Homo sapiens: one gene and its partner. The protein of the gene in region 2 purifies or fractionates together with the protein of the main gene of each other region. This does not show direct contact. Each region holds a gene or a part of one and is shown on either strand. Other genes may lie near its edges.

Region 1 (3,926 bases), about 85 Mb from region 2:
CTTTGGAAGTCTGAGGTGGGAAGATGACTTGAGGCCGGGAGTTTGAGACAAGCCTGAGCAACACAGTGAGACGCCATTGCTAGCAAAAAACTAAAAATTAGCTAGGTGTGGTGGCACGTTCCCGTACTCCTAGCTACTCAGGAGGTTGAGGCAGGAGGATTGCTTGAGCCCAGATGTTTGAGGTTACAGTGAGCTATGATCATACCACTGTACTCCAGCCTGGGCAACAAAGAGAGATCCTGTCTCAAAAATAAGTAAATAAAAACAGAGTAGAAAAATTCAATCAAAACCAAAAGAAGGTAGTACTAGAACTCAGAGAAAAAAAGATAAACACTTGCATAAAAAAAAAAACCCGCAAAATGACAGAAATAAGCCCTTTTGTTGTATATAATTTGGCTGGTTTTTGTCCCTGGTTTCTGGAAGACAGCCTCTAAGTCTAAACCTTTGGAATTTCCCCCAGTGATAGGCGTGCCTTTGTTATTCATAGTGGATACCTTAGACCACACCTGGTAAGGTGACTCATGGTGGGCCTCTAGACAGTTTCAGGATGGGGGCTGGCCATGCCAGAAAGAATGATCATATCTTCAGGAGGTTGAGGCTTTGAGCCACATTATCAGTCTGACCTCCTGACCTAGGGAGGGGCACAAGGCTGGAGATTGAATTCAATCATGTGGCCAATGATTCACTCAATCACACCTATGTTAACAAAGCCCCAATGAAAATTCTGCACACCCAATGCTCAAGTGAACTTCCTGGTTGGTGACAGACATTGATGTGTTAGGAGGGTGATATATCCTAAGGACACATAAGGTTTGTGTTTGAGATCCTCTCAGATCTCCCCCTTTATGTTTATTTTCTTTTCGCTGCAGTGAGCCATGAAGGTCCTAATTTGTATCCTTTATAATAAAAACGTAATCCTAAGTATAGTGCTTCCCTGAGTTCTATGATTTGTTCCTGCAAATTACTGAGCTGAGATGCTAGTAGAAATCCTGGAATCTGTAGACAGTTGGTCAGGAGTGCATGTAGCCTTGGAAACTCTAAATTTGCTGCTTGCTTATGAAGTGATGGCAGTTTTGTGGGGGGACTGTGCTACAAACCTATTAAATTTAACCTACCTCTCAGTAGTTACCACCAGGATTATTACATCCTGTCTGTAATTACTTTAAATGTTTCTCTCTCTTTCTTTCTTTCTTAGAGGCGGAGTCTTGCTGTGTCACCCAGGCTGGAGTGCAGTGGTGGAATCATGACTCACTGTAGCCTCAAACTCCTGGGCTCATGCAATTCTCCTGCCTCTGCCTCCCAAGTAGCTGGGACTACAGGTGCATGCAACCTCATCTGGATAACTGTCTTAAACTATTAAATAAACAGCAAACACTGGTCAGATGTGGAGGCACACACCAGTAATCACAGCACTCTGGGAGCCCAAGGCAGGCAGATCACTTGAGGCCAGGAGTTTGAAACCAGTGTGGCCATCATGGTAAAACCCTGTCTCTACTAAAAATACAGAAATTAGCCAGGTGCAGTGGCACATGCAGATCACTTGAGGCCAGGAGTTTGACACCAGTATGGCCATCATGGTGAAACCCTGTCTCTACTAAAGATACAAAAACTAGCCAGGTGCAGTAGCACATGCCTGTAATCCCAGCTACTCGGGAGGCTGAGGCACAAGAATTGCTTGAACCTGGGAGTGGGAGGCTGCAATGAGAGTGAGACTCTGTCTCAATAAAAATGAATTAAAAAAAAAAAAGACTGACAGAATGGATCTTATAAAACAGAATACAATAATATATAATCTAAAAGAGACTCATTTGAACCCAAAGACAAAACCAAAACAAAGTAGGGGTAGCTGTTATAAAATCAGACAAAACAGATTTTAAATTAAATATTGTTATAGGAGACAAAGAAGGACATTATAAAGGAGTTAAGGTAAAGGTAAAGGAGTCAATCCGTCTAGAAGATATAAAAATTGTAAACATACATGAACCTAGCAAAACAGCCCACAATATAGGAAACAAAAATTTACATAACTGAAGGGAGAAATACAGACAGTTCTACAGACATAGTTAGATATATTACCATACTTCCAATAATGGACCTATTAGAACACGATCAAAGAAGAATGAAAAAAAATATTAACTGTTGGTGAGGATCTGGAGATACTGAAACCCACTTTATACATTACTGTTAGAAGTATAAAATAATGTAAATGCTGAGAAGAACAGTTTGACAGTTCCTCAAAATCTTAGATATAGCTACCATATGACCTAGCAATTATATTCCTAGGAATATACCCCCAAATTGAAAACAGATGTTCAAGCAAAAACCTGCACGTAAATGTTCATAGCAGTCTACTCACAACAGTCAAAAGGTAAAAAGAACTCATATGCTCTGACAAATAGGTCAATCAAATATAGTATAGGTTGAGTATTCCTTATCTGAAATCCTTGGGACCAGAAGTATCTCAGATTTTGGAATGTTTATATTATATTATACTTACTGGTTAAGCATCCCTAATCTGGAAATCTGAAATCCCAAATCCAAAATGCTCCAATGAGAATTTCCTTTGAGCATCATGTTGGGTGCACAAAAAGTTTTGAATTTTAGAATATTCCCACAAGTGGAATACTATTCAGACATTAAAAGTGAGTGAAGTACTCATACATACTACAACATGAATGAACCTTGACAACAATATGCTAAGTAAAAGAAGCCAGGCAAAAAAGGTCACAAATTATATAATTTCTATCATATGACAAATCTAGAATAGACAAATCTGTAGAGACAGACAATTAGTAGTTGCTAGCAGCTGGGAGGAAGGGGGAATGGGGAGTGACTGCTTAACAGGTATGCGTTTCCTTTTGGGGTGATGAAAATGCTTTGAAACTAGGTAGTGGTGATGGTCACACAATATTGTGAATATAGCAAATGCTTCCAAATTGAATAAAATTAAAATGGTTAATACAACAAATTTTATTCTATGTGTATCTTATCATAATTTTAAAAATCTATGCACAGGTTTTTCTTTCAATTATTAAATCAGAACCAGTTATAGACAAAAATACACACAAAAAACAATGGCTATACACTACATACCTGTTAGTGCTGCTGGTTTGGATAGTGTACTATATTGATTTTGCGTAGATATCATACTTTGACGTGGACTTAGTGTTGGTGATGCAGCAACAAGTGAAAGTTCTTCAATAATAATCCTGCTTTTGGGATGATTCTTGGGGACTTCGTTTAATCTTTGCTCTAATGAATACTTTAAAAGGTCCAACTTCTGACTTGATTCATTAAATCTTGCTTGAGCCTTGCACAGGGAAAAGACAATTGTTGTCATTTAAATAATCACATACTTTGAATAATGTATTTATTAAACCAAATAAAAATTTTTATTTAAAATTACTTCTGAAAGTGCTTTTCTGTCTGTTACTTTTCCTGAGCCAAGTAATTTCATTACATTCTTTGCACCTTCTGCTACTGCAAACTCTATCCTAAAATGATGCCTTAATTCTTCCATCCGAAGTTCAAGAGGACTTATCACAGGTTTTGCTAGAAAGGAAAAAAAAATTTTAATTGCACCATTTATCTGACTTTCCAATTTGCAGTGATTAAAATCATGAAAAGAAATGAATTCCTATAACATTACAATAACTTAGTCCTTACATCAATAAACACTGAAATAAAAATATTTGATATGATATTGAAATTCAGAGCCTTTCATTTTTGTCATTACACATCTAAATTACAAATCTGAAAAAAAGATTTTAGAGCTGAAAGATATCCAAATATTGTAACATGGGGAGACCGAAAGTTTCTACTCCTACTCTTAGCAACTAGCTTTAAAGATTTCTTCTGGAATTAAAAAATAAATAAAACAAAACAAAAAAACAAAAGAAAACAAAGCCATACTCTTAAACAGGTAA
Region 2 (3,926 bases):
AAGTGTACAATTCAGAGGCCGGGCGCGGTGGCTCACGCCTGTAATCCCAGCACTTTCGGAGGCCGAGGCAGGCAGATCACAAGGTCAGGAGATCGCGACCATCCTGGCCAACATGGTGAAACCCTGTCTCTACTAAAAATACAAAAATTAGCTGGGCGCAGTGGTGCATGCCTGTAACCCCAGCTACTCGGGAGGCTGAGGCAAGAGAATCGCTTGAACCCAGGAGGCAGAGGTTGCAGTGAGCCGAGATCGCGCCACTGTACTCCAGCCTGGGGAGAGAGCAAGACTTCATCTCAAAAAAAATAAATAAAATAAATAAAGTGTACAATACAATGGGTTTTATTATATTCCCAGAGTTGTGCAGCCACATCCACAGTCAATTTCAGAACATTTTCACCACCTCAAAAAGAAACCTCATACTCTTTAGCTACCAACCTCCCTCCCCTCTACCCTACCCCCAACCCTAAACAACCACTAATCTATTTTCCATCTCTCTAACATCCCCGTTCTGGGTATTTCCTATGAATGGAACCCTACTGTATGTGCAGGCTTCTTGACTTGGCATGGTTTCAAGGCTCGGCCATGCTGTGTTTCATTCCTCTTCATGGTGAGTACTTCCATTGTATGGATGTGCCACACTCTATTGATCCAAGTGTTCATCATTGGAGACTTAGGTGGTTTCTACCTTTTGGCTATTATGAATAAAGCTACTGTAAACGCTCACGGACGAGTTTTGGTGTGGACGTGTTTTCATTTCTCTTGGGTACATACCTAGGAGTGGAGCTGCTGGGTCACATGGCGATTCTGTGTAATTGTTGAGAAACTGCCAGACTATTTTCCACAGCAGCTGCACCGTTTTCCCTTCCCATCAATGGGGCCTGAGGGTTCCAGCCGCTCTGCATCCTCGCCCACACTGGTTGTTATCCTAGTGGGTGTGAAGTAGCATCTCACTGTGGTTTTGATTTGCAGTTCCCTGACGACTGATGATCTCAAGCACCTTTTCCTGTGCTTACGACCACTTGAATATCTTCCTTGGAGACATTTCTTTCTTTTCAGAACCTTTGCCCATGTTTAATTGGGTTATCTTTTTACTATTAAGTTATAAGGATTCTTTATATATTCTGATGCAAGTCCCGTATTAGATACATGATTGGCAACTATTTTGTCCTATTCTGTGGGCTGTCGTTCACTGCAGCCTCCACCTCCCCGGTTCAAGCAATTCTCCTGCCTCAGCCTCCTGAGTAGCTGGAATTACAGGCGCCTGCCACCACGCCCGGCTAATTTTTGTATTTTTAGTAGAGACGGGGTTTCACCATGTTGGCCAGGCTTGTCTCAACTCCTGACCTCAAGTGATCTGCCCGTCTCGGCCTCCCAAAGTGCTGGGATTACAGGCTTGAGCCACCGTGCCCGGGCCAGAGTTCTTAATGTTGATGAAGCCCAATTTATCTGTTTTTTCTTCTGCTGCTCATGTTTTTGGTGTCAAATCTAAGAATCTTTTGCCAAATCCAAGGCGATGAGGACTTATCGCTATGTTTTCTTCTAAGGGCTTTATATTTTTAACTTTTACATTTAGGTCTTTCATTTATTGTACTTTTTGTATAAGGTACCAGCTAAGAGTCCAACTTCATTCTTTTGTATGTGAATATACAGTTGTCCCAGCACTATCTGTTGAAGATACTACTCTTCCCCCTCCGTTGAATGGTCCTGGCATCCTGACCACAGATACATAGATTTCTGGGTGCTCTGTTCTATTCCATTGATCTATATATCTGTCCTTGTACCAGTGTCAGTCTTGATTACTGTGGCTTTGTACTAAGTTTTGAAATCAGAATATGTGGGTCCTCCTACTATCTTCTTTTTCACAGTCGTTTTGGCTATTCTGGGTCTCTTGCAATTCCATATGAACTGTGGATTAGAATCAGCATGTCAATTTCTACAATGAAACCAGCTGGAATTTTCATAGGGATTGTGTTGAATTTGTAGGTCAGTTTGGGGAGTCCCACCATCTTAACAATGTTAAGTTTTCCAATCCATGAACATGGGATGTTAATCCATTTATTCAAAACTTTAATTTCTTTCAACAACATTTTGCAGTTTTCAGAATATAAGTATTACAATTTTTTGTTACACTTATCCTAAGTATTTTATTCTTTTTGATGCCAGTGTAAATGGGATGATTTTCTGCTTCATTTTCAGATTGTTCGTTGGAAGTGTATTTCTATATTTGCATATGATCTTATATCCTTCAACCTTGCTAAACTTGATGATTAGTTCTAATCACTTTTTAGTGGATTCCTTAGGGTTTTCTACATACAAGTTCATATGATCTGCAAATAGAAATAGCTTCACTTCTTCCTTTCCAATCTGGATGCTTTTTATTTTTCTTGCCTAAATGTCCTGGCTAGACCCTGCAGTACCATGTTAAACAGAAGCAGCAAGAGTGGACATCCTTGTCTTCAGAAACTAAACACACACCACACAACGCAGCACTGTACTCCTGGGCATTCTCCCCAGAGGCATGAAAACCTACATCTCGCAAAAACCTGTCAAGATGGCCAGGTGCGGTGGCTCACGCCTGTAATCCCAACACTTTGGGAGGCCAAGGCGGGTAGATTGCTTGAGCCTAGGAGTTATAGGCCACCCTGGGCAACATGATGAAGCCCTGTTTCTACAGAAAATACAAAAATTAGCCAGGCATGGTGGTGCACCCCTGTAGTCCCAGCTACTCAGGGGCGGAGGTAGGAGGATCGCTTGAGCCCAGGAAGTGAAAGCTAGAGTGAGCTATGATTGCACCACTGCACTCCAGCCTGGGCGACAGGGTGAGACCCTGTCTCAAAAGAAAACAAGAAAGAAAAAAGAAAAACTTGTACATAATTGGCCAGAGCAGCTTCATTTGTAATAGTCAAAAACTGGAAACAAACAAAATATCTTTCCACAGGCGAATGGTTGAACAAACTGTGGTAAAACCAAACCATGGAATGCTACTCAGCAATGAAAAGGAACGGACTATGGATACACACAACTTACATGCATCTCGGGAGCCTTATGTGGAGTGAAAAAGGCTCATCTCAAAAGGTCACATACTTTATGATTCCACTTACCTAATATTCTTTTTTTTTTTTTTTTTGAGATGGAGTCTCAGCCTGTCACCCAGGCTAGAGTGCAATGGCACAATCTCAGCTCACTGCAACCTCCACCTGCTGGGCTCAAGCGATTCTCCTGCCTCAGCCTCCTGAGTAGCGAGATTACAAGCGCCCGCCACCATGCCCAGCTAATTTTTGTATTTTTAGTAGAGACGGGGTTTCACCATGTTGCCCAGGCTGGTCTTGAACTCCTGATCTCAGGTGATCCACCCACCTCGGCCTCCCAAAGTGCTGGGATTACAGGTGTAAGCCACCGCACCTGGCCCCTAATATTCTTTAAATGACAAAATTATAGACATGGAGAACATATCAGCAGTTGCTACGGGCTAGGGATTGCTGGTGGGCAGGGGTAGGCAGGATTATAAAGGGGAGAACCTTGAGTGATGGATGGGAGAGGGCTGTACCTTGACCCTGATGCTGGTCACAGGAATCTACATGGGGAGAAATGACAGAACAACATGCACATTGCACTAGTGTCGGTGTTCCTGTTTTATATTGTACCACGGTTGTATCTGATGTTGCCTTTGAGGGAAAGGGTAGAGGTACATTGGACCTTCCTATCTGTGCAACTTCCTGGGAATCTGTCATTATTTCTAAATAAACGGTTTAGGCCAGGCACAGTGGCTCATACCTGTAATCCCAGCACTTTAGGAGACCAAGGCAGGAGGACAGCTTGAGCCCAGGAGTGTGAGACTATCCTGGGAAACATGGCGAAACCCTATCTCTACAAAAAATACAAAACAATTAGCCAGACGTGGTAATGCATGCCTGTGGTCCCAGATA

The links.
Region 1: the proteins of DFFB (region 2) and PKN2 purify together in Homo sapiens (affinity purification with mass spectrometry; 2 studies listed by BioGRID and IntAct, with this or other methods). This does not show direct contact.

What each region holds. Positions count from the first base shown.
Region 1 is NC_000001.11:88,771,047-88,774,972, reverse strand, and holds part of PKN2 (serine/threonine-protein kinase N2), read right to left. Parts: intron 3,553-3,926; coding exon 3,407-3,552; intron 3,311-3,406; coding exon 3,094-3,310; intron 1-3,093. UniProt on the Homo sapiens protein: PKC-related serine/threonine-protein kinase and Rho/Rac effector protein that participates in specific signal transduction responses in the cell.
Region 2 is NC_000001.11:3,860,355-3,864,280, reverse strand, and holds part of DFFB (DNA fragmentation factor subunit beta), read right to left. Parts: intron 3,862-3,926; exon of another isoform or gene 3,775-3,861; intron 1-3,774. UniProt on the Homo sapiens protein: Nuclease that induces DNA fragmentation and chromatin condensation during apoptosis. Degrades naked DNA and induces apoptotic morphology.